4 linked regions of the Homo sapiens genome follow. The protein of the gene in region 1 interacts with the protein of each later gene in a pairwise test. Each region holds a gene or a part of one and is shown in the gene's direction. Other genes may lie near its edges. The genes, in order: VASN, VWC2, NR4A3 and ZNF837.

Region 1 (7,034 bases):
CAGACCCCCAGGCCCAGGAAGCTTAGGGCTGGCGGCCTTCCTTGGTGACTAAGGTGTTCTTCTGGCAAGTTCAGGGTTAATTGCAGGTTAGGGCCTTACTAGATGGGTGCTTGCCCCTGGGTGGGGACAGGGCAGTGAGGAGGCCCCGTGTGAGGGCCCAGCCCTGGTGGCATCACACCTGCCGCGTGCCGAAAGTGGCATCTGGACTGGCCCATTTCTAGTTGGGCTGCAGCCACTGCACAGCTCCCAGGGCCACAGGTGTCCTCCCTGACAGGTTGCACCTCTTGTGACTACGATGGCACGTCCCACCGCCCCAGGGGCTCACTTGAGCTGGGGCCTGGCCTTAGTCACTGGTCTCCCTGCCCTGGGCTAACAGGTCTGGCAGCTGCCAAGTCACCCACGGTGCTACTGAAGGCACCCACCTGGGGCCGGGCCAGCCTCCTGGGTGGAGGGAGGAGGGAAGACCCTGTGCCTGCCCCTCTCCCAGCCCTGCCAGCTGGTCCACACCTGCTCCAGGATACAGAGCCTCCTCCCTGCACAGGAAGACGAGCTGACATCCTGACTGTCCCCTTTGCAACCCTCTGTCCTGGTGTTCTGAACCCTGGCTGTGCGGAGGACTCGCTCAAGGAGCTTCTCCAAAATACAGCTCTGCCTGGGTCTCACTCCTAGACATTCTTTTTGTTTTTGAGATGGAGTATTGCTCTGTCACCCAGGCTGGAGTGCAGTGGCGCAATATTGGCTCACTGCAAGCTCCGCCTCCCAGGTTCACACCATTCTCCTGCCTCAGCCTCCCAAGTAGCTGGGACTACAGGCGCCTGCCACCAGGCCTGGCTAATTTTTTTGTATTTTTAGTAGAGACGGGGTTTCACCATGTTAGCCAGGATGGTCTCGATCTCCTGACCTCGTGATCGTCCTACCTCGGCCTCCCAAAGTACTGGGATTACAGGCGTGAGCCACCATGCCCGGCAGAATTTCTTGTTTAATTGGCCTGGGGGTGGGGCCCCAGCATGGAGGTTTTTTTTAGAAAGCTTCCTGGATGATTCTGATGTGCAGCCCGGCGGGCAAAGCCCTGGCGTCACAGGTGGGAGACGGAAGCCCAGAGAGGGGAGCTTGCTTGGATGAGGTCACAAAGCGTGTGAGTGCCTGACTGAGCTCCTGGCTGTGGCATTATCTGTGGAATGAAGAGCGCCAGCTTGGGGTGGTGGATGGAGTAAGAAAGAGGCTGACACCCATGGGGACCCCCGCTCAATCACCAGCCAGGGGTCCCCGCGCCTATAGGGAGGGTCTACCTGCCGCAGTCCCTGAGGAACTCGAGGCCCAGCCCTCTCTGCCCCTTCTGTGAGGGCCCACGACCCCTGACCTCTCTGCCCTGCCCTTGGGACTGCTGTGTCCCAAGGAAGGGGAGACGGGGCGGACCCAGCCGGGCCCTGAGCCTCCTCGGACACGTCAGCGAAACTGGAGCCAGCCGTCCTGGCCGCCGGCACAGTCCCGCCTGCCTGGAGGGGTTGGCAGACTCCCGGGGCTGGGCTGCTGCCAGGCCTGACCGGCCACACAGAGCCTTGGCGGGCCAGCATGAGGAGCGGGGGCCCGGAGTCTCAGGGTCAGACCTGCAGCGCCTGTCCTGCACCCACGCTGAAGCATACGGCACAGGAGGGGCGTACTGGCCTCAGACTGTCTATCTGTCTGTCCAAGCCTGTCCCCTACTCAGCAGGCACACCGCCTGCCCCAGAATCAGTGAGATGTTCTCGCCAGGGGCTGATGTGGTCACCAGATGCCTGGGTCCCACCCCAGCCATGCTATCCCCTGGCCCGTCCCCGCCTGACCCTGGGCGTGTGTGGTGTACCCCAGAGGTGGGTGGGCGTCCCCCTGGGAGTTGAGATGACGAGTGCCTTGTCCTCCTTACTCATAGGGCCCCTCCCTGAAGTCCTGTGCTGAAGGGGCCGCCAAGGGACAGCTCACCCACCACGTGCCCCCTTCCAGAACCAGAGATACCCCACCCCCGCTCCCCAGCCCCCAGGGTGAAGGGCAGCCTTGGTGTGGGGATGTCTGATCTGTGTAAAGCTGGCCTGAAACCCTCTCCCTTAGTAGTACCCACGCCCAGGGGGCAGGCAGAGTTCTGCGTTTATGAGTGACGCCCTCCGCAGTGAATGTTTACCGACCACTTGGCAAGTGCTCCGAGCACAGACCAAGTCACCCCAGACACAGGCACCACGAGCACCACGAGCAGCGCCCACTGCACAATGGGGGCTGAGGTAGGGGTCGTGGCCGGGCTGTGGACCCTGTCGCCCTATGCCAGTTACTGTGCCAGGGAGGGAGCAAGGCCGGCAGCAGCACTCAGCAAGGCTGAGGAACTTGGGTGGAGGACGGAGGCCCCAGACCCTTGCGTCATCTTCCCACCCCCCGACGTCCCCGAATCCCAGGAATCCCAGGGCTGCCTCCGGAACACCTCCTGCACCAGGCAGAGGAAAAGGTCTCACCTCCCTGCCTGACTAGTGATCAAATATCAAAGCCCAGGTCCTGGGATCACCGGGTGGGAGGGTGGGTGGGCGGCGGCAACCACCGTGTGACCTGTAGACAGCCCCCAGCCCCACGCACACACCAAGCACACGCCCAGACCCCAGGCGGGCGGGACAGCTCCCAGAACTTGTTAAAAGAACTTCCCCATTTGAAAACAAACAGAACAACAGAAAACTACAACTCCAGAGGGTGAGGGGGCAGGGCTGCTTGCACCAACTCCAGAGGTGAGAAACTGAGGCCCACAGTTGAGAAAGGAACTCTGGCCTCTGTCCCCTGCCACCGTCCCCTCCACAGTCAGCCTTCCCTCGCTGGGTTCCTCTCGGGGCTGGCTGATGGGTTCTCAGTGCCAGGAGTCCCTGGCGGTGCCCTCAGAGCTGCCAGCCTGTAGCTTACAAACTCTGGGGTTTTCCAAAGCTCCAGCGCTGCCTCCTCCCTCCTCCCTTTGATGTGGGGGTAGAATTGGGGCTCAGGCAAAAGAGCTCACCGCACATTTTACGGGGCTGGGAAGCAGGCTGGCTGCCGCCTGCTGGATGGTCAGCCCAGGACCCCAGCCCACAGTCCTGACCTAGACCCCTGTCCTGCTAACAGGAACGCACATTCCACAGCTCACTACCTGTCAGCCGGAAAGCCACCCTGTGGCCAGATGGACCCACAGCATCCCCTCTCCCTTCACAACCTTGCTGATTAAAGACCCAACAGATTACGGAGCCCAGAGCTATGGCTGGTCCCCCTCCCCAGTGCAGGGTGAAGAGCACCCCCCAGCACGTGCCCCTAAGAGCTGGCCTGCACACCTGGCCTTGCAGGGCTGAGGACTCCACATGCATCCCCCACTGCAGCCCTGAAGTGTCCCAGATACTCAGATGAAGAAACCGAGGTGTGAGAGCAAAGTCACTGTCTGCGGCCTCACAGCTTGGACACCTCTGAGCACAGGGCCGCCTGCCTGGAGTGAGCGCTCTTAACTGTGACCTTAAACGAGGCCCAAGGGGAGCTGCGGCCACAGTGGTGGCCAGGCTGGCCAGGCTGGCCACGTGGAGGATCCCCTCCCACTCTGGAACCTGGCTGCATCCTTCCTGACCCTGGTCTGGCCCTGCTGGGAGGGCTAATTCAGGCAGAGGTGGCCTCACCCCCCATATGGACATGGGGTGGGTGGGGGTCACTCACAGCCCACATCTGGAGGCCAGGCCGCACCCGCCGTCCTCTGAGTCAGTGAGGGTGGAGCGGGTCCCATGGGGGAAGAGAAGGCTAGGGGTGTGGCCCCAGGGCCTTAGGTCATCAGACACGAGCCCCCCTGGGGTGGGCTGGCCGGGCCAGGGACGCGTGCCTGGGGTTTGGGGTGCTAACTTCTTCCAGTGCTCAGTGCCAGGCCCTCCTGGGCTGTTCACTCAGCAGACCTGAGCTAAGTGGGCCTGGAGACACCTATGGCAAAGGCAGGCTGGGTCTCACCTTAGGGAGGTGAGGGGGCACACGACAGCAAGGGGGACACCGCTAGGTTGGGGAGGCTTAGCCTGCTGGCCTCTGAAGGGTGCTTGTTGTCGCTAACTGGCTAGGGGCTCAGGGTCGGTAGCTCCTAGGGGAGACGACTCTGGCAGTGCGATACTACACGTGGGCAGGGCCTGCGTGGGCCCAACCCCGGGGACAAGGGCTTCTTCCTTCACCTCGAGCTACCCGCAGACCCCAGTGGTCACCTCACCAGTGACTTGTCTAATCTGTCCTGGGACCACCTGCTCCTCCTCACATTCCAGGAACCCACGTACCTGGGGGAGAGGGAGCCCTATGGACGGGTCCCCCCAGCCTGGGGCGGAGTGCAGGCTGGGTCGGGGTCGTGTTCCCTGGACTACCTGCACAGCCTGTGTGGGGGAAGGGGAAGCCCGGACTCCAGCACAAAGGGCTCTTGTGTGAGCTGCAGGCGCCACTGGGCAGGATGCTTCCTGGGGATGGGCTGGCACCCCGTATGAGGCTCAGGGACTTCTAGGGGTGCCAAAGTGGGGAGGGCTCTTCCTGGGGACGGCCCCAGCGGTCTCCCCAGGAGTCTAGGTGATGGGGGCCAGCCACAGACCTGCCTGACTTGGGCAGTGCAGCTAAGATCTGGAGCCTGGAGCGGCTGGTGGGAGCCCCCGCCCCCAGGGCCATCTGGAGGGCACGCACCCTTCACAGGTGGCTGCTGCACACCTGGGCTCTAGCTCGGACTTGCTGGCACCGCAATGGCAGCGAGTCCCTGCACCTCCATGAGCCCTGCTTTCTTCTGTCTGCCCTGACGTGGCTGCTGGGGGGCTACCTGAGGTGACGGTAAACACTTAGTGTTCCTTCGTCCTTCCCACTTCGCTGGCACATGGGAAGGACTTGCACCATCACTGCCAAGGGGATGGCTGCTGCTCATCTTTCTTGGTGCCCAGCTCAGGGCAGACCCCAAGAAACAGTAGACGAAGCCGGGCACGGTGGCTCATGCCTGTAATCCCAGCACTTTTGGAGGCTGAGGCGGGCAGATCACCTGAGGTCAGGAGTTCCAGACCAACCTGACCAACATGGTGAAACCCTGTCTCTACTAAAAAAAAAAAAAAAAAAAATACAAAAATTAGCCATGCATGGTGGCTGGCACCTGTAGTCCCAGCTACATGGGAGGCTGAGGCAGGAGAATTGCTTGAACCTGGGAGGCAGAGGTTGCAGTGAGCCGAGATCTCGCCACTGCACTCCAGCTTGGGTGACAGAGCAAGACTCCGTCTCAAAAAAAAAAAAAAAAAAGTAGATGAATGACTCTGCAGAGTTTTCCCAGGCCTGGCACTGCCCCTGGGGCTGCCATGTAGCCAGTGTCCCCACCTGAGCCCTGTGGCCCCCCAGCTCCAGCTCTGTCACCAGCCTCAGCTCCCCGCCTCCCTCCCTCACAGGGGACACCTGCCAATGCCTGTGGCCTCTGCCCCTCCTCCAGGAACCTTCCCGCCGGCCACTTCCTGGCGGCCCGCAGCCCCCAGCCTAAGCAGGTCTGACTGCCCAAGTGGAAAAACATGGATCCCATAGTTTCCATGTGAAGTCTTCCCGCTGCATTCCCTCCTCCAAGGAGGGCGGGACACGGAGCGTGGCAGCAGGAGCCGGCGGCCAAGGCAGCCAGCTTCTCTGCTTACACACCCACCCAGCTGCCTGCCTGCCCCCTCTTCCAGACCCTGTAGGGAGGAGCTGCCGCTCCAAGTCCCACCATTCTCTCCTTCCTGGTCCATCTCTGAGGCAGGGGATGGGGGAACCTACCTAGGCAGAGGCAGGAGGGCCTGGGGTTCAGGAGGAAGCAGTGCATGGTCACTGCACGTTCAGTGGATGTCATGCCCCATGATGACCTCTGTGTGCATTGACAAGGTCACACAGTGAGGGAGTGACGGGGCTGGGACAGAACCTGGGTCGGGGCACTGGCGACCTGACTCATAACCATTGGGTTCTCTTGCATTTGGGGGCAGAAGCAGTGAATTCCCTCTGGCTCTTCCTGGCGTGTCTGCCTTCTAGGCCCCTGACTCACAGTCTTCTGTCTCTGCCTCCTCTCTGCTCCCAGGGACAGAAGATGTGCTCCAGGGTCCCTCTGCTGCTGCCGCTGCTCCTGCTACTGGCCCTGGGGCCTGGGGTGCAGGGCTGCCCATCCGGCTGCCAGTGCAGCCAGCCACAGACAGTCTTCTGCACTGCCCGCCAGGGGACCACGGTGCCCCGAGACGTGCCACCCGACACGGTGGGGCTGTACGTCTTTGAGAACGGCATCACCATGCTCGACGCAGGCAGCTTTGCCGGCCTGCCGGGCCTGCAGCTCCTGGACCTGTCACAGAACCAGATCGCCAGCCTGCCCAGCGGGGTCTTCCAGCCACTCGCCAACCTCAGCAACCTGGACCTGACAGCCAACAGGCTGCATGAAATCACCAATGAGACCTTCCGTGGCCTGCGGCGCCTCGAGCGCCTCTACCTGGGCAAGAACCGCATCCGCCACATCCAGCCTGGTGCCTTCGACACGCTCGACCGCCTCCTGGAGCTCAAGCTGCAGGACAACGAGCTGCGGGCACTGCCCCCGCTGCGCCTGCCCCGCCTGCTGCTGCTGGACCTCAGCCACAACAGCCTCCTGGCCCTGGAGCCCGGCATCCTGGACACTGCCAACGTGGAGGCGCTGCGGCTGGCTGGTCTGGGGCTGCAGCAGCTGGACGAGGGGCTCTTCAGCCGCTTGCGCAACCTCCACGACCTGGATGTGTCCGACAACCAGCTGGAGCGAGTGCCACCTGTGATCCGAGGCCTCCGGGGCCTGACGCGCCTGCGGCTGGCCGGCAACACCCGCATTGCCCAGCTGCGGCCCGAGGACCTGGCCGGCCTGGCTGCCCTGCAGGAGCTGGATGTGAGCAACCTAAGCCTGCAGGCCCTGCCTGGCGACCTCTCGGGCCTCTTCCCCCGCCTGCGGCTGCTGGCAGCTGCCCGCAACCCCTTCAACTGCGTGTGCCCCCTGAGCTGGTTTGGCCCCTGGGTGCGCGAGAGCCACGTCACACTGGCCAGCCCTGAGGAGA
Region 2 (7,034 bases), on another chromosome or scaffold:
CCTTACCAACCCCTGCTGTTATCTGTATTCTCACCTTCCTGAAAAATGGTATAAGTAGTATTCATCTCTCTAGCCTCAGGACTGGAATGAATAAATGAACACATAGAGAATGTCTTCATTCTCACTCCCAATCCCAAGAAACCATGTTCTTTGGATCCAACAAATTTTTCCCTACTCCTGGCACACAATAGGGGCCTTGAGAATGAATTCTTTTCTCAAATGCCCAACTGTTTCTCCAGGCTACACATCTAAATTCTATCCATGCAAAACTTGGAAGATTGTGAAGAATGACATTTCTGCCATAAGGTATTCTATGTAAAATGTAGGTGGTGATTTGCTAATAAGAAGTACTAATGCTTTAAACTTAGGTTGTCCCTAGTTAAGTTTCTTCTGGGAAAATGATAACTTTAGAAGAGGAGAAAAGTTTGTGTCATCTGATCGGAAAAAATGTGCATGGAAGTTCCTGCTGCTGGTTGCAGAGTAAATGATGTGCTCGGCATCTTACCTTTAGTTTCCATGTGGGACAAAGAGCACAGCCTGGCAAAAGGCCCATGGTGCTTGAGTTGGCACGTGGGGAACCATCAGCTTGGTGGGTGCTTACAGTCAGAGCAGCAGCTTGGTATCTGACCAGGTCAAGGGACAGGCAAATCTTTCACCTCACTCCTAGACATTTGGGTCAGCTGCCTGGGCCTGCTGACCACGCCAGTGGGGATCCAGCTATGGGTTGGTGAAATGAGCCTAAAAGAGGGTCACTGTGACCCAGAATGCCAGATTGGCCCTGATGACTGGGGATTAAAGCCTCATGTCAAAGCTAGAACCCACGGCTGGAGCCACGGCTGCAGCTTCCATCTGCTCCTTGGCAGCCTCTCTGTATCTCAGGAGGTGGAAGGCACTAGCACATTGTCCTGGAGGACTCTGAGCAGGAAGCTGCTTTTATGAGTGTACAGTGGCCATCCTGGGGCACCAAACAGAGCCCTGTGTTGGAATGAGGGTCCTTAGGCAGTGTAGGGACTGGAGCCAGTGTAGGGAAGAGCTGGCCTGAATCCAGCTGGGTCTCTGTCAGATGTCCCTGGAGGACTCGTGTGGAGTTCAGTGGTGGCTTTTCCTCCCTGATGTAGTGAGGCTGCATCTTCCTCAGCTGGCTGCTGAGTTCACGTGGGCATTGGGGTTTGTGTTTGTTTTATTTTGCTACTTTAACAACATTCCCTTCCTTACATGAGGGCTGTGCAAGGCCTAGGTTTGAGCTCAAGTGATGTCTTAATGGAGGGAAAGTGCCCATTTTCATCCAGGTTGGTATCAAAGATGGCTCTGCAGAGGAGGCCACGTTTGAGCTGGATCCATGACAGGTAGGAGCTTATCAAATGTGAGCCAGCGAGACAGGACAGCATTGAGGGGGCATAGGCCACTGCTTCACCAAACGAGGAGCATGGCGGAGTGGGCTCAGGGGGTTGGCATGGCTGAAAAGGGCAGGGCATTATTTTCATCTGTTGAGTCTGGGCACACCTGCTTAGTTGGGTGAAGTCTGATCAGTGATCAGGGCCCAACACTGGCAAGTGGCCCAGTGGCCCAGCAGGTGGTCTGAGATGGTGAGGCAAGAAGGTTTTACTGGAAGGTGGGTTCATGGGTTAGGATTGGAACTGCCTCAGGCCTAGGACAGCCCGCCTGCAGGAGATGGGAACATAAACCAAGTGAAGGCAGGGTTCTTTTATGTGACCTGGATCCTGGGTAGGGGTCCCGGAATGTCCCTATCAGATGAGAAACTCTGACTTCAGGGCCGGTGACCAGCTTGAGGGCTTCTGCCCAGGCAGAACTAGCAGGGCACCTGGCTGGCATCTGAGGGACTCACACAGCTTTGCCACTTGCTGTCACCAGCCTCACTTCCTCTGGGAATTGAGGCAGGCCCAAACCTGGGATGGGAGTACATAGGAGCCCAGCATGGGTGCTGGTGAAGGCAGATGTAGGTGGTAGGAGGTGAGGCCTGATTGGCGATCCTAATTCTAAGCATCAACTCTGATTTTTTAGAAGTGAACAAATCTCCAAATACAATCATGCATCACTAAATGACAGGGAAGCATTCTGAGAAATGCATCCTTAGGTGATTTTATCATTGTGTGAACATCATAAAGTGAACTTACACAAATCTAGATGGTGTAGCCTATTTATTACACACCTAGGTTATATGGTATATCCTATTACACACCTAGGTTATATGGTATAGCCTATTGCTCCCAAGCTGCAAACCTGCACAGCACGTTACTGTCCTGAAAACTGTAAGCAGTTATAACACATGGTATTTTTGTATCTAAACATAGAAAAGATATGTAAAAATAAGACATTGTAATCCATGGGACCACGTCGTATATGCAGTTCCTTTTTGACCCAGTTATGGGGCACATGAGTGCGGCTGAATCAGGATTTCTAAATATTTAATGACAATATAACTGACAATCAAATTTTTTACAAAGCTACAAAACCTTTGAGAAAATAGCATGCTGGCCTGTGTGCATGCCTTTAAGCAGTATTCTGTGGCATGGATTCAATGAAATTTCAGCTCCAGTGGCAGTAAGAAGTGTTTTTTTTCCAGGCCAGTGATCTCTGCTCCATTTGCCAAGGTGTGCACCTTCATGCAGAAAGCTGCTGGACGAGGCTGATTCAGCGCCTGCTGCCTAAGGACCTGGAGCCTTTTTGACGTTGCAGTTGGACCTTTATCTCTGGTCCTGCTGTATTCCAGGGCCCTCCCCGGCGATATGACATAGGGTGTGCTCTGGCCTTCTTTTAAATTCCCAAATGGAAATGGTGCTTTTTATTCCCTCCCTGGTGTATGCCTAGGTGAGGAGTAGATGCCACGTTGTGCTGCTTCGTGAGGACAGACCTCACTATCTGACCCGCTTGCTCCTTGCTGACTATCCTGATCTCTATAGGGGGATGGTGCTCCCCTCCCCTGGGGCAGGGTGTTCTGGCTCTCCATCATGTAATCCACACCACCTGGGCTTGAGGGCTTATGCTCTGAGTCCTTCCAGCTGAAGGCTTCTGACATGCAATAAACCATGTCTCTTGCAACTCAAGGTCTTGGCTTTTAAAACTCAGAATTCTGTTCTCATTCTGCTTGCTATGTATATATCCCCCTTGAGACAAAAATGCTACAGACTGAATGAGGGAATTGGTAGGAGACAAGGAAATGAGACCCACAATGATGACAGCAACAATAAAGAGCACCACTGGTTATGGTAGCAAAAAAAAAAAAAAAAAAAAAAACCTAATTGTGCCAACAACAACAAAAGAAACTCATCTCAAAAACAGGCCTTTATATTACTTCAAGATTGATTTTAACTTCTAAGGCTACATTGCCAACCAGGTCAGTGTTTTGTCTCAGGCTACACTAAAGTTTTTCAAAGTTTCCTTTCTTTTTTACATTTTTTTGGCCAAGTACACATACACACACTCCTTAGCCCTCACTCCCAGGCAGGTTGACTGTGGTCTAGTGCCTCAGAAAGAGACATGGTTAAACTCCAGTTGAGCTTTTGCTTCTCGTAATAGCCAGTCCACTCAGTGGAGATTTCAGTTTTTAGTGTTTGCATTGTATAGACAAAGGGAGCATCTGTGAGAGTTACTCATGTTCTTTACCTTACAAGCGGTATTTGTATCATGGACGTGGGGCACACAACTCAACTGGGGTCTCCCTGCCCCTGGCAAAGCAGGAACTCAGCTTGATACGACCCATTTCCATGTCCCCCATTTCCATGGTCTTTCTAGTGAGTATCCCCACTTCCCAGTTTTGCTTCTGATGGCTGGGTCTGCATATGCTCTTCCTGCTTTGTCCTGGGTCAGCCAGATCAAAAATCACTCCATTGGTGGTAACCAGGAGATAAATCACCATGCCCTGTGTGAGTGACCATGGAGGGTCCCGTTAGCCACGTACAGCTTTCTTGGGAATGGCTGGTATGCTTGATTTGGATAGCTCAAGAAGGCAGAGTATGAGCCCATGGCTGGAAAGTAGAGAGAGGCAAATGGAAGCTTGGTTTCTAACAGAGCATCGTGATGCTGGATAGTGGGCAGAATGACCTGGAGGAAATTGGAATCACCATGGACTCGCAGTCAGGAGCCCTCAGTGGAAGAGGACCTTGTGCTCACAGGACAGACATGCCCATGGCATGTTGCCTAACACCTCTGAGTCTCAGTTTCCTGTTAGTACAAAGGGTCAGTAATTTGAGTACGTGTATTTTAGCGCTGCTGTAAAAGTTCAGTGAGGGAATATTCATAGAGCTCCCGGCCCTTGGCCCCGCTTGGATGCCACCCTGTTTCTCCTCCTTCACCCCTTTCCCCTTTCCTATTCCAGTGTCTTCGTAACTGGAAACACTGGGAGTGTTCCATGTGAGTCTGGGTGGTGACTTGACAGGGTTATAGACAAGGGATTCACCTACGTGGTGAGGGGATGGGCAAGAACTCAGCAGCAAGTTTTTATTTGTTTAATTTTTAAAGAGATGAAAAACATTTCTTCAAAAAAAAGTTTAATAAGAAACCCAATATGCAGACCACAAATTAAACAGTGGCTCTGGCTGGACAGGAGAGGGAACATCATAGCCCTGTGGCCCGTCCTGTGCGTTTGCACCTAAGACAACTCACCAAACACCCAGCATGCCTGTGTCCACACTCTGAAAACCACTGGGCTGGATCATTTTTTAAACATTCCTAAAACACTTAGGTGTCTTCGCAGAAAGTTTAGGGAAAGAAAAGTATGACCCTGTAGGGCCAGGCTCACTCCTGTAATCCCAGCACTTTGGGAGGCTGAGGCGGGCAGATCACTTGAGGTCAGGAGTTCAAGACCAGCCTGGCCAACATGGTTAAACCCCATCTCTATAAAAAACACATAAATTAGCCAGGCATAGTGGTGGGTGCCTGTAATCCCAGCTACTCAGGAGGCTGAGGCAGCAGAATCGCTTGAACTCGGGAAACAGAGGTTGCGGTGAGCCGAGATCGCACCACTGCACTCCAGTGTGAGCGACAGAGCGAGACTCCATTTCAAAAAAATATATATGACCCTGTAGGATAAACATGACAGCAGGCTAAAGTGCTGATTGTGGGCTTGTGTTTCAGGTGTCTCCATGCGAGAGGTGTCGCTGTGAAGCCAACGGTGAGGTGCTATGCACAGTGTCAGCGTGTCCCCAGACGGAGTGTGTGGACCCTGTGTACGAGCCTGATCAGTGCTGTCCCATCTGCAAAAATGGTATGTGAGATCCCCGTTGGTGACGGGGTGCACCTCCCACCCTGATGCACAACCCATGTGCTGCTTCATGGTAGACGGGACACATACGGATACGTGAGTTTCATCCTATGTATCAATACACATGCGTACACACGTGTGTAATCTTTCAGCCACAGTGGTTCTGTAGCAAGGCCTTCTCTCTCTTACTGGCATCAGCACCATGTTTTATGGATGTTAAGAAGTTCTTTGGGGAGAAATTCAATTTCCACCTTTGAGGAGAGTCACTTATTTTAATTTAACTTTGTTTGTTCTTGCAAAGCTGTTTCTATCTTTCCAAGACACATTAAACACACTGGTTGGGCTCATTTACTTTTCATTACTAAGTGAATGAAACTTGGAACATAATTGAATATTTTTCATAAGCAAATTAGGCAGGAAGAGAGTCCCTTCCTATTCCCAGTGAGAGCCCCTGGTAGATCAGAAGCCTTGCTTACTTTATGAAAATGAAGTGGCAGGATGTCCTTGATCCTAATTTGTCATGGGAGAGTGTTTCCTCATCCTGACAAACGATGATTACTCTGTACCTGAGGTACTGAGGGCATTACACTATAAGACGGTTTTTGACAAGAGTGCATACCCAGGCTGGCTGGGCCTGAGAATTATGGCCCGGAGGGCAGTTTGACAAGAGGCTGAGCAGAGCTTGGGAAACAGCGGACAGAGGGGACACAGCCGGAGTCTACAAGGATCTGAGTGGCCTCGCTGACAGGAGCGACTGGGCTTTCTGGATGTTGCCCAGGGTATGCTGTGGGGACCCCTGGTTGAGAGCATTCAGAGCTAACTTGTGATGCTGTCGGCCGTTCATGTGGGTTGCTGGACCGAGGCTTGATAGCTGTGTGGCATGGGTTTGGTATGTGGCAGGCATGTGTTGGTGGATGGTGACACAGGGGTGGTCATGGTGCTCAGACAATTCCCAGAGTCTGTCATGACAGTCGAAATTGTGCGGGCCATGAGGTTCCATGGGTACCTTCGACCACGTACCTGTACATATCCAGATTTTACTACAACACATTGTAAAACTCTTGAGGTAAATAATTGGAAGAGGGAATGATGTTGCTGTTGAAGGATAGACCTGAAAGAACAAGATGACTGTGTTAGGAATGTCATAATCATTGTAGCATAGTACATCCAGTCCTCCAAAGGCAAGTGGACAGTGTTAAAACAAAGATGTCACAGAGTGTACTTTATATAGGGTTGGCTGGTCTCTTGTGCATGTTAATTATGAAGAAATCCTGAGGTAGGATTCCATTAGACAAGAACGAGGGGGACTTTGAGCATGGAGTGTGTTTTTTTTTTAAAAAAAAAAATGATGTTGAGACACCAGCTGTGAGATGGAGGGAAATCAATACAGTTTACTCTACTAGTGTTAATTACCACTAATTAACACTAATAAAGGGGGAAGAAGACTCTGGGATTGGGGAAGGAGAGGCAGATGGAGAATCTGGCAGAGTCTCGGTGTGGCTTTCAGCACACCCGCTGAGGAGCCCGAGTGAGCGCCTCTGGTCTGCTGGGAGAGCTGAGGGCTGGCGCTCAGGCCATGTGCCCTGCATGTCGGGGGTACTGGACGACAACAACTCTCACTGCGTCAAGGGGTTTAGTGAATGGCTTAAATATGGGTTGCTTAAATATTTGGCGTCTTAACTACCCAAGATATTCCATGTTTTTCCTGTAAATTTTGATTATAGACTAAGTCTTGGCATTAGATAGCCGGGAATCCTAGCTTGAGTGTTAACAATAGGTGAGAAGACAGGATTTCAACCCCTGGATTTTTTTT
Region 3 (7,034 bases), on another chromosome or scaffold:
GCTCGGCGCCCTCAGGAATGTGCCCCCGCTAGGCCGCTGGGTGGCCAGGAGCCTCCAAGCCGCCCACCCTCGAAGACACCGCCCTCTGGGTGCAGGGGACCTGCCTCCGCTCGTCCCATCAGCCGCTAACGCCGTCCGCTTCGTCCCCTTGCTTCCAGCGCCAGCCTTCTCATCGCTGTGCCCTTTTGTTTGCTTGACCCCTGGCCCTCGAAACTCGCGGCTAATAGAAGCGAAGCTCCATTAGCATTTAGAATGAAAAGCGCAGACTTTCTTAATTCCTCGGGGCATTCATGCATTCGTTCCGGACCTTGTGCATTTCCTATGCAACGTGTAAAATTTGTATTTGAGGGGTGGGGGCGGGCGGAGCTGGAAAATGGCTTTTTTCCGCTGGTGAACACTCACTGACCCCCCGTATTCGGGCGGAGCTCGTTCCTCAAGTGTTCTGCTTTCTTTGGTTTTCCTGACTTCGTAAGCTCGGAATCAATTGTGGGGGCAGAGAGATCAATTTCTGGGCAATAACAGGCTGCGCGTTTTTTTTTTAGCCTCGGTTTTGGTGCCACAAAACGGTGGTAGGCGCAGTGGGTTCCAACAACCTTTCCTCGGCTTCCCCGAGGCCGTGTGATGCTTCTTGCCCAGGGGGACTCCTGTACCATTAATCACCCTTAATTTTACGATAATTCTTTGTAATTAATGTAACATTTCTAGAGGTTGCCAACCAATTCCCCCAGTCCCCAATGCGCCCAGCCCGGGCCGTAGTGACCCATCCTGGTCTCACTGTGACCTATGTCCTCTTTCACCTTGCCTGTAGAGCCCACTGCGGAAGAGGGCAGCCCGGCAAGCCCGGGCCCTGAGCCTGGACCCTTAGCGGTGCCGGGCAGCACTGCCGGCGCTTCGCCTCGCCGGACGTCCGCTCCTCCTACACTCTCAGCCTCCGCTGGAGAGACCCCCAGCCCCACCATTCAGCGCGCAAGATACCCTCCAGGTAGGTCCGAAGGCAAGACCCTTTTCTCCTCCCTGGCTGAGGGAAGTGGGTGGGGGAACCACACACTCGGCGGGCAGCGTGGTCGACCTGCCCAGTGCCAGGACAGTGACTGCTGGCCGCGAATTTCACAACACAGGTGGCTTCCTCACAGGAAGCTCCTCTGTATACCACACCCTGTTGCTACTGAGTGGAGCAGCCAAATTAAATTAAGCTTGCATTGCTCAAAATTAATTTTCCTAAGAGAAATACAAATACACCAATAGATTAGGGTATTTTATACATTTTTAATTTCATTTTTGCTCTTCTTTTATAGCCAGTGTGCACATGTAAGAGTTATGGAATCACTTAGAGCAATACTGAGCATTTTCATTTATATAAAACCCAAATCATTTGGGTGCAGAAGTTTGGATGATTGAAGCTCAGAGGGAAGGAGAAAAGCATTTGAGATGAAAACCAAAGAGTAAATTTGAGTTTGGCAAAAGAACAGATTGCACTTTTGGTTTGTACCACCTCTTTACAAATTTGTTAAAGGAATACTAGGTGCCAAGCCTGTGTGGGCACCATAGATAATGCAGATAAATAGAATACAATCCCAGCAAGCTCATCTTCTAGCTAGAAACCTCAGAAAGACACAAATAAGAGCAGTAAAAAGGGATTGGCCGGAAAGAATGACAGAAAAGAGTAATGGAGAAATCCTAGAGGTGCTGAAGGGAGAAGGAGAATAGATCAAAGATCAGGCAGTGTTCTTTCTTTTAAATGATTAGCCTTTCATTTCATCCCAACAACTGGACAGCAAGATAAGTAACTGGACTTCAAACTAGTGAGTGTATTTTTAAGGCCCTGCTTGTTAAAGAAAGGCTTGAACTGGCCTCTCCTCATCACTGCTTCTTCCAACAGGCCCTCATCACCTTTTTTCAAGTCAAGATTTCATCCCATACATGCATGACTCAATCAGATTTGGAAATGTGGGTAAGAGAAAGATGTCAAAGGAAATGTGAAGTATTCACTTCTCTATTAGTCACACCTTTTACACCATAGACTCCAAAGAGGCGTTAAGCACCTGGTTTTCCTTTGGCTCAGAAAAACCAACCACCAAAAACCGCCGTTTTTTACCATTTATATTTAGCCATAAAGAAAGAAAAATAATTAGATAAATCATCCACTACATCCAATAATTCTCAGCGCCTTCTCACTCAGTTCAGCCTCTCTGAACAATAGTAAGCACCCTGGATACCAGCCACTTTGGGGGCAACATAGTCAAACTGGCAGAGAAATCAAGTCTATTGAGAAACTGCTTTTTTTCATGGGTACTAATTCTAGTGTCATAAGGAAATACCTATACTAACTTGCCTATTATGATAGTTATAAACTGTTATCACAAAACAGTCACTGATATGTTTTATTAGTTAGAATTGGGATATATATATGTGTGTGTGTGTGTGTGTGTGTGTGTGTGTGTATATATATATATATGGGTGGGTGTTTTGTTGCAGCTGCTGATCTTTTTCTTTGCAGATGGTACAAACTCTCCCGAGTCAATTTCCTGGGCCTATGTCCCCACCTAGCTGACTGAAGTTATCAACAGGGGTCCAGTTTGTGCAGGCTGCTAGCCCTATTGGAAGAGTGGGGATGAGGTGGGAGAAAGCAACCACAACGTGTGTGGGCAACCTCAATTGGCACTCATAAAATGTTAGAATGTCAACTCTCTCCCTTGGCCACTAAATCTCTCACAGGGTAGTTTTTCTTGCCTAACTCAGGTTTACAAATCAATGTGTATGCCTTGGGGGACCAATGGCCTCTTTCCTCCCAAATAAACCACTGGCTTTCTCTTTGTCCCCCTAGGTTATAGCTGAGGAGCCCACTCCAATTAGTTTATAGGATTCAAAGCCTCTTTTTAAAAACATCTCTGAGCTTATGAGGAAAGACTTCAAGTTTCCCAAATCTAGTGGAGGACAGGGCAAGGGAGGAAAGATAGGTACAGGAGTCCACAGGAGGCCAGGTTTTGGCACCCCTTTGTCAGGAATTCAGCTTCCTTACTAGGGATGAAGAAAATAAGTGTGGGGCTTTGTGTCTATGCTACCAGAAGGAGGAGAGGATGACACTTCCTCTCTGTTTCCCAGATTAGAGAACAGTGAACCCAATGCTGCCTGTTGGCTAGAAAACAAGTGTTAACTTGCTTCTGAGAGACCCTTTTCTCTGTCCCTGCAGATATGCCCTGCGTCCAAGCCCAATATAGCCCTTCCCCTCCAGGTTCCAGTTATGCGGCGCAGACATACAGCTCGGAATACACCACGGAGATCATGAACCCCGACTACACCAAGCTGACCATGGACCTTGGCAGCACTGAGATCACGGCTACAGCCACCACGTCCCTGCCCAGCATCAGTACCTTCGTGGAGGGCTACTCGAGCAACTACGAACTCAAGCCTTCCTGCGTGTACCAAATGCAGCGGCCCTTGATCAAAGTGGAGGAGGGGCGGGCGCCCAGCTACCATCACCATCACCACCACCACCACCACCACCACCACCATCACCAGCAGCAGCATCAGCAGCCATCCATTCCTCCAGCCTCCAGCCCGGAGGACGAGGTGCTGCCCAGCACCTCCATGTACTTCAAGCAGTCCCCACCGTCCACCCCCACCACGCCGGCCTTCCCCCCGCAGGCGGGGGCGTTATGGGACGAGGCACTGCCCTCGGCGCCCGGCTGCATCGCACCCGGCCCGCTGCTGGACCCGCCGATGAAGGCGGTCCCCACGGTGGCCGGCGCGCGCTTCCCGCTCTTCCACTTCAAGCCCTCGCCGCCGCATCCCCCCGCGCCCAGCCCGGCCGGCGGCCACCACCTCGGCTACGACCCGACGGCCGCTGCCGCGCTCAGCCTGCCGCTGGGAGCCGCAGCCGCCGCGGGCAGCCAGGCCGCCGCGCTTGAGAGCCACCCGTACGGGCTGCCGCTGGCCAAGAGGGCGGCCCCGCTGGCCTTCCCGCCTCTCGGCCTCACGCCCTCCCCTACCGCGTCCAGCCTGCTGGGCGAGAGTCCCAGCCTGCCGTCGCCGCCCAGCAGGAGCTCGTCGTCTGGCGAGGGCACGTGTGCCGTGTGCGGGGACAACGCCGCCTGCCAGCACTACGGCGTGCGAACCTGCGAGGGCTGCAAGGGCTTTTTCAAGGTGAGCGCACGCCGCCCCCTCCCCTCCGCACCCAGCCCCCTCACTGAAGGGAGCTTCTAAGTGAGTGTAGGAGCATCCTTGTTCTTCCCGGTTTGAGAGCTGTAATCGGCACATCATGCTTTCCTACAGCCCTTCCTAGCACCTTCACATCCATTTTCTCAGGGGCTTTCTACTGAGGTCCATGTGCAGCAGGCCACCCCAGACGGACTCCGGGGGTCCGTGAACCTCCTGGCCTGACACTGCCCTATGAACATTTTTCTGGAGAGCTTTCAGCAGAGTCTTAAAAGGACCTGTGACTTCGAAAATGCAAAAACCTCATTGCTTTGTCTGTCCATCCAGGGTGTCTGAGGGGATAGTGTGTGCGTACCAAGCCCTGGACATTTGTGTCTCATTTAATCCTTACAGTAAGAGCTGGGGCTCTAGAGTCAGACACATCTAAGATTGAATTCTGGCCACTCACTAGCTATTTTTAGTAACAGTGTTTTAAAACAGTGTTTTAATTTTCTTTGTTTTGTAGATGAGGATGTTGAGGTTTGAAGAGGTTAATCAGCTGCCTCAGGACACACCTTCAGAGAAGGGAGATGGAGGCAGGATGCCAACCCACGTTTGCGTGACCCCAAAGTCCATTCCCTTTTCACAGCTCTGCAGCTCTAGGAGACAGGGACAACTGTCTTCTTCTATGGAAAGAGCTGCCTCTTTCCATAGAAGATAGAACTTGGGGTCTTGTGTCCTCTAGGAACCTTTCCCTACCTCTGTATCACATGCGGTGCCAGGTGTAGACATAATTCATTCCCTCATAGGCCTAACGGAGAAATTTTACAGTGGGAGGGCCATCAGCCTCCCCCATATTTTACCCACGAGGAAGCTGAGGCCTGGAGCGGTGAAGCCTTATGCAGGCTGTAAGCAGTGATTTAACTGCCCATGAGATGTTTCCAGCTGATTTGTCCTGACTCCTGAGTTCAGTGTTATTTCTGCCACTTAGGGAAAAGACCTTGCTCTTTTGCTGTGCTACCTTTTGCTGTTGACTCCCAGACTTTATCAGACACTTACTTCTGTGCCATCCTTCTCACTCCTCACCCCACTGGCCATTATTTCAGTCATTTACAAACCCACACAAATTATTCCTTATCCTCTAGTGCTGGACAGGGTAGAAAGAAAGAGAAAGCAGGATGCTGACTGGGTAACTTGGATTTGGGAGGCCAATAGGATATATCTGGGAGTACACCAGAATTAGTGAGAGAAGACTCAAATAGAAGACCTTGATCTTCCACCTTCCAATTGTATCATGTTGGGCATGACACTTCATTCTAAGCCTGTTTCCCTATCAATGAATAAAACTCAGAGAAGAGCTGTGTATTCAATGAGATAAAAATATATATGAAAGTGCTTTATAATCTTTAAAGAGCTGTACAGATAGTTCATTATTAAACAAAAGCTATAAAGTTTTGTAAAAATGCACATTTGTGGAGGGATATACATAGCAACAAGCAACAATTATTTTTGATCTTCAGATTGTAAATATCACTACCTGAATTCTGCAGAGAAATGAGAAAATGTTTGGGGAAAGACTGCAATACGTTAAGTGCCCTACAGATATTTGGGATTATGATGTTTTAAATGCAGAATCTTGGTCATTTTATTTTATTTTTTAGCCACTGAGTTTGGCCATTTTTTGTTTTAACTACTCAAGCTTTATCAGAGCTACTTTCAAGTAACTGCATTCCTTTAGCAGATTTGATTTTTACAGGATTTCAGTGGAAAATGCTGAAGGACAGTGAAACTGGCAGCAGAAAGGGGGAAAGAAAAAAACAAGAATTATGAATAATCTACAAATATAATTATCTCTAAATAATGGAGAGTTGACCAAAATACCAGAGTGGTAATACATTCTGAGTCCAGAAATGTCAATTAAGTGTTCCCCAACAGCTTCTCTTTTCTGCAGCAATCCCTCGAAAACAAATCTATACTTGAAAGGGTGGGGGCAAGATGGGGGAGAATCACCCCACAGAACTGTTAATTAAGGGAACCGGAGCAGGTTTTACCCAGTGGCTTTCTACCATTAAATTGAGTTCTTTAAAAATGTGACATGAAGTGCAGTTAATGATAGGAATTCGGTGATTGAACCATAATGATCTCTCCCTGTCCTTAAACACAAATGTAGGGAAGGCTTCAGGTTATTGGGAAAATGTATACCTGAAGCAAAATGCCATCAGCACTCAAATTGGCATAAAGCCTTGAGGATGATGGCAAGAAATAGAGTGTTAGAAATTACTGCATGTTCAATGAAAGCTTTATTCAGGAAACACACGTTTCCTACCCTTACAGACTGCTAAGAATTTAAATGCTGGAACCTCAGAAGTATGCCTGTGTTTCAGAATTTTGCATTTTAAACTAAAATCACCTACTATGGTGGGAGAAACATGTCTTAGACTTGACATAGGTTGGCTTTGTTATATTAAGTTTTATATAAGCAATCTAGAAACTATCCCCTAAAATGAAATTAAAAGGTAACAGGGTAAAACTGAAACATGGGGGTTGAGAATGACTGGAAGTAAATGTTAAAAAGCAAATCTAGATGTTTGAACACAAAATAGATCATAAAGCCCAAGTTACCTGGATTTATTTTCTTTTTTTATTAATGCAGCCCAGGCTTCCCAAATAAATTTCAACTTTCTGCTCTATTTGGAGTTGTATAGATCCAGGTAATTTCTGAACAGTTTCACCCTAAGTGGTAAAAATACGTTCATTTGCACAAATGTTTTCAATTTAAAAAGCAAGCATTTGTTTAAATTTGGAGGACGAAATATGTTTATTTCTCCATGTGTCATTTCCAAATTATATGGATTCTGAAAAATACAACATCATTTTTCTATCCAACCTTAAGTTTTATG
Region 4 (3,942 bases), on another chromosome or scaffold:
CCTGACCTCGTGATCTGCCCACCTAGGCCTCCCAAAGTGCTGGGATTACAGGCGTGAGCCACCGCGCCCGGCTCCCCCCCCCCGGCCTTCACCCCTCCCTCCCTCTCTCTCTCTTTTCTTTTTTTCCTTTTCTTTTTTTGAAAGAGTTTCACTTTTGTTGCCCAGGCTGGAGTGCAATGGTGCGATCTCGGCTAACTGCAACCTCCATCTCCCGGGTTCAAGTGATTCTCTTGCTTTAGCCTCCTGAGTAGCTGGGATTACAGGCACGCACCACCATGCCTGGCTAATTTTGTATTTTTAGTAGAGACGGGGTTTCTCTATGTTGGTCAGGCTGGTCTCAAACTCCTGACCTCAGGTGATCCATCTGCCTCGGCCTCCCAAAGTGCTGGGATTACAGGCGTGAGCTACCGTGCCCGGCCGTCCTTTGTTTTCACTTGCTATTCAATTGCTTGCTTAGGAGATGAATATTTATATATGCACGTGTGTGTATCTCAGCAAAGTCCACTGTTGTAAGCAGAATAATGGCCCCCTGAAAGATCTGCACGTCCTGTTTCCTAGAACCTCTGACTATGTTACTTCACAAGGCAAAAGAACTGAGTGTGATGAAGTTTTGGATCTTGAGATGGGGAGATTCCTGGATTATGTGTGGTTGGCCTAGTGTGATCACAAGAGGCAGAAGGGTCAGAATCCTATAAGGAGTATAAGGAGATTTGACAACAAACCCAGAAAGAGAGAGATGAACATGTCTTACTGCTGGCTTGAAGATGGAAGAAAGAAAAGTAGGTGGCACCTAGAAGCTGGAAATGGTCAGCAAACGTCCTCCCCAAGAGCTTCTGGAAGGAACCCACACTACTGAAACCTTCACTTAGGACTTACGACCTCCAGAACTCTGAGATAACAAGTTTGCACTGTCTCAAGCCACTATGGGGTGGCAGTTTGTTAAAGCAGCTTTAACAATAGATAACTAATACAGCCACAGTGTAATTTTAAAATAGTAATAGCAGGCGCCAGGCGTTGCTAATGTTCACACTTGCTTGAATGATCTGGGCTGCCTGTCTCCCTACTCAGCTGGTTATACTTACCGTTATCATACCCATTTTGTAGATGAGGCTGCCAGCCTTGAGAGCACCACCGTTACCTGGTTGAAGAGGGGAGGGGAAGTCCAGCATTGGCCTCTGCAGCGTGGATCTCCCGGCCAGGCTCTCAGCTGTCAGGTGAGTCTCACCTCACACCTCTCAGAAGACATGGACAATGGCAGTGAATGGAGCCAGGAGGACCCGGAGTGTCGGCTTGCCACTGAGAAACGGAGGGCAGGAGTAAGTGAGATTTTGGGGAGCTGGCAGCTGAGCAACGGGGGAGTCCCTGTTGCTTGGGGAAGGGGGACCAGGGAGGGCCTTAGCCAGGGGCACAGTGTTTTAGGAGCTAGTGTTGGGGAGGAACGGTGATGGCGGGCAGGCAGAGCCTGGGAAGCTGTTCTCTGGGGTCTGGGTGGTGACAATTTGAAGAGGGGCAGGACGGGCTGCCTATGTCACTCCATTTACCCTTTCGCATCTGCAGAGAGCTGGGGGCCGCCCAGTAGGTGCCAGCTGTGGGGTGGTCGCTCGTTGGCCCAGTTCTCCACTTCTCTCCTCCTGGGAACCGCCAACCTCCATTTCTTCTCTGCTCTTCCAGATCCTACAACCAGAACTCTGCGCCCCAGGATGGAGGCTCCAGCCCAGAAGGCTGGGCAGGGAGGACTCCCCAAGGCCGATGCCCAGGGTGCCTCCGGGGCCCGGGAGAAGAGGCCCGAGGAGCCGAGGCCCCTCGAAGAGGACCGAGCTGGGAGCCGCCCCACTCAAAAGGGGGACCTGCGTGGAGCGGCGGGCGGTAGGACGACTCCCCCAGGCGGGGGCTCCCGGGGCTGCAGCCTCGGGGTGAGCCCCGGCCCGGGGACCCGGCACAGCGCCGGGACCAGACCCCTCGTGCGGGAGCCGTGCGGCCCCACCTCTTCTCAGAACCCTGAGCTGGTTATCCCCGAGGGGCTGCAAGCCCGGGAGGGCCCCTGTAGGAGCCCAGCGCGTGGCGGGGACTGCAGCAGGAACTCCTGCCTGGCGTGGCATCGCGGGGCGCCCGCTGGGGAGACGCCACCCGTGTGTGACCCCTGTCCGGAGCGGATCCAGAACCACCCCCGGACTCAACTGTGTGAGGTCCACACGGACTGTTGGCCGTGCCAACCAGGGACTGGCGCTCCGACCTGCCCGAGGACCCCAAAGCCGACCTCCCGCGGGAGGAACCCCTTGGTGGAGCAGCCCCGGGCTTGCGCGTGCGGCGAGGCCTTTGCGTGGAGGGCCCTGCGGATCCCCCAGGAGAGGCTGCAGGCGACGGAGGAGCCCCGTCCGTGTGCCCGGTGCGGGAAGCGCTTCCGCCCCAACCAGCAGCAGCAGGCGGGCAAGAGTCCCCCAGTGTGTCCTGAGTGCGGCCAAACCTCGCGACCTCGCCCTATTGTCCCCGACCCCCCGGCCCAGCGACTGTACGCTTGCGACGAGTGCGGCAAGGCCTTCACGCGCACCTCCAGCCTGCTGCAGCACCAGCGCATCCACACGGGCGAGCGGCCCTACGAGTGCGCCGAGTGCGGCAAGGCCTTCGTGCGCTGCTCCGGCCTGTACCGCCACCAGAAGACGCACTCGGCCGAGCGCCACCGGCGTGGCCCCGTCCTGGCGCGGCGCGCCTTCCGGCTGGGGTGCCCGCCCTGCGGGGACTACAGCGAGCGGAGTCCCCGACGGGGGTCGGGAGCCGGGGAGAAGCCGTACGAGTGCGCCGACTGCGCCAAGGCCTTCGGGCTGTTCTCGCACCTCGTGGAGCACCGGCGCGTGCACACCGGCGAGAAGCCCTACGCGTGCCCCGAGTGCGGCAAGGCCTTCAACCAGCGCTCGAACCTGAGCCGGCACCAGCGCACTCACAGCAGCGCCAAGCCCTACGCGTGCCCACTGTGCGAAAAGGCCTTCAAGGGCCGCTCGGGCCTGGTGCAACACCAGCGCGCGCACACCGGCGAGCGGCCCTATGGCTGCTCCGAGTGCGGAAAGACCTTCCGCGGCTGCTCCGAGCTGCGCCAGCACGAGCGCCTGCACTCGGGCGAGAAGCCCTACATCTGCCGCGACTGCGGCAAGGCCTTCGTGCGCAACTGCAGCCTGGTGCGCCACCTGCGCACGCACACGGGCGAGCGGCCCTACGCGTGCGGAGATTGCGGCCGCGCCTTCAGCCAACGCTCCAACCTCAACGAGCACCGGAAGCGGCACGGGGGCCGCGCCGCGCCTTGACTGCAGGGAGCCGAGAGTCGACGCGTCGCCCAAGCGAACCCTGCGTCGAGGAGGGGCCTTTGTCCCGGAAAACCCACCAACGTTTGTAACTTTGATTAAACTTCACTTTGTACACATGGCGTCCACAGGCTTCCCCTAACTCGAGTTTTATTTGACCTTTTCTAACCGGGCGCACAGCATCCGGTTGCAGGCATAAGCAGTAATAATCTCGAGTGGGCGCTGATACGGCCCAGACGCTGTGTCCACGATCTCTAGGGTCTTTTTCTCCGCAGAGCCGCGGAGCGTGTTACTGGGCTCTCTGGTATGCGAGGAAACGGGGCAAAGTGACTCTCCTGAGGCACGAACATAAGACGATGGAGGCAGGATTCGAACCTAGGGTCTCTCATATCCCTTAGGCAGCTTCAGGAGCCTTGGGACCGCGGGGTATTTGCACACCCTCTACCGTAGCCGGCCTGGCACAGCTCGTAACCCTCCAGAGGTGAGACCTCGGGGCAGGCTTCTGCCTGTCCCGGCCCTGGCAGCTCGGTAGTCGCGGCAGAAAGGGTTCCCTTTGGTGAAGTGTGAAGCCCTGGCAAGCTTGCCCTGGTCTGACTGACGAGCGGGGTCGCCTTTATTGTCGCCCCCCGCTGGACTCCAGACTGAACCG

Evidence for each region.
Region 2: the proteins of VASN (region 1) and VWC2 interact in binary tests that used the Homo sapiens proteins (3 or more experiments, as listed by UniProt).
Region 3: the proteins of VASN (region 1) and NR4A3 interact in binary tests that used the Homo sapiens proteins (3 or more experiments, as listed by UniProt).
Region 4: the proteins of VASN (region 1) and ZNF837 interact in binary tests that used the Homo sapiens proteins (3 or more experiments, as listed by UniProt).

What each region holds. Positions count from the first base shown.
Region 1 is NC_000016.10:4,374,820-4,381,853, forward strand, and holds part of VASN (vasorin precursor), read left to right. Parts: intron 1-6,049; 5' UTR 6,050-6,058; coding exon 6,059-7,034. UniProt on the Homo sapiens protein: May act as an inhibitor of TGF-beta signaling.
Region 2 is NC_000007.14:49,797,617-49,804,650, forward strand, and holds part of VWC2 (brorin precursor), read left to right. Parts: intron 1-5,094; coding exon 5,095-5,224; intron 5,225-7,034. UniProt on the Homo sapiens protein: BMP antagonist which may play a role in neural development. Promotes cell adhesion.
Region 3 is NC_000009.12:99,824,851-99,831,884, forward strand, and holds part of NR4A3 (nuclear receptor subfamily 4 group A member 3), read left to right. Parts: intron 1-808; 5' UTR 809-982; intron 983-1,879; exon of another isoform or gene 1,880-1,920; coding exon of another isoform or gene 1,921-1,951; intron 1,952-2,497; exon of another isoform or gene 2,498-2,616; intron 2,617-3,190; coding exon of another isoform or gene 3,191-3,192; coding exon 3,193-4,143; intron 4,144-7,034. UniProt on the Homo sapiens protein: Transcriptional activator that binds to regulatory elements in promoter regions in a cell- and response element (target)-specific manner.
Region 4 is NC_000019.10:58,367,091-58,371,032, reverse strand, and holds the end of ZNF837 (zinc finger protein 837), read left to right. Parts: intron 1-1,104; 5' UTR 1,105-1,214; exon of another isoform or gene 1,215-1,316; intron 1,317-1,671; 5' UTR 1,672-1,700; coding exon 1,701-3,296; 3' UTR 3,297-3,410; downstream 3,411-3,942. UniProt on the Homo sapiens protein: May be involved in transcriptional regulation.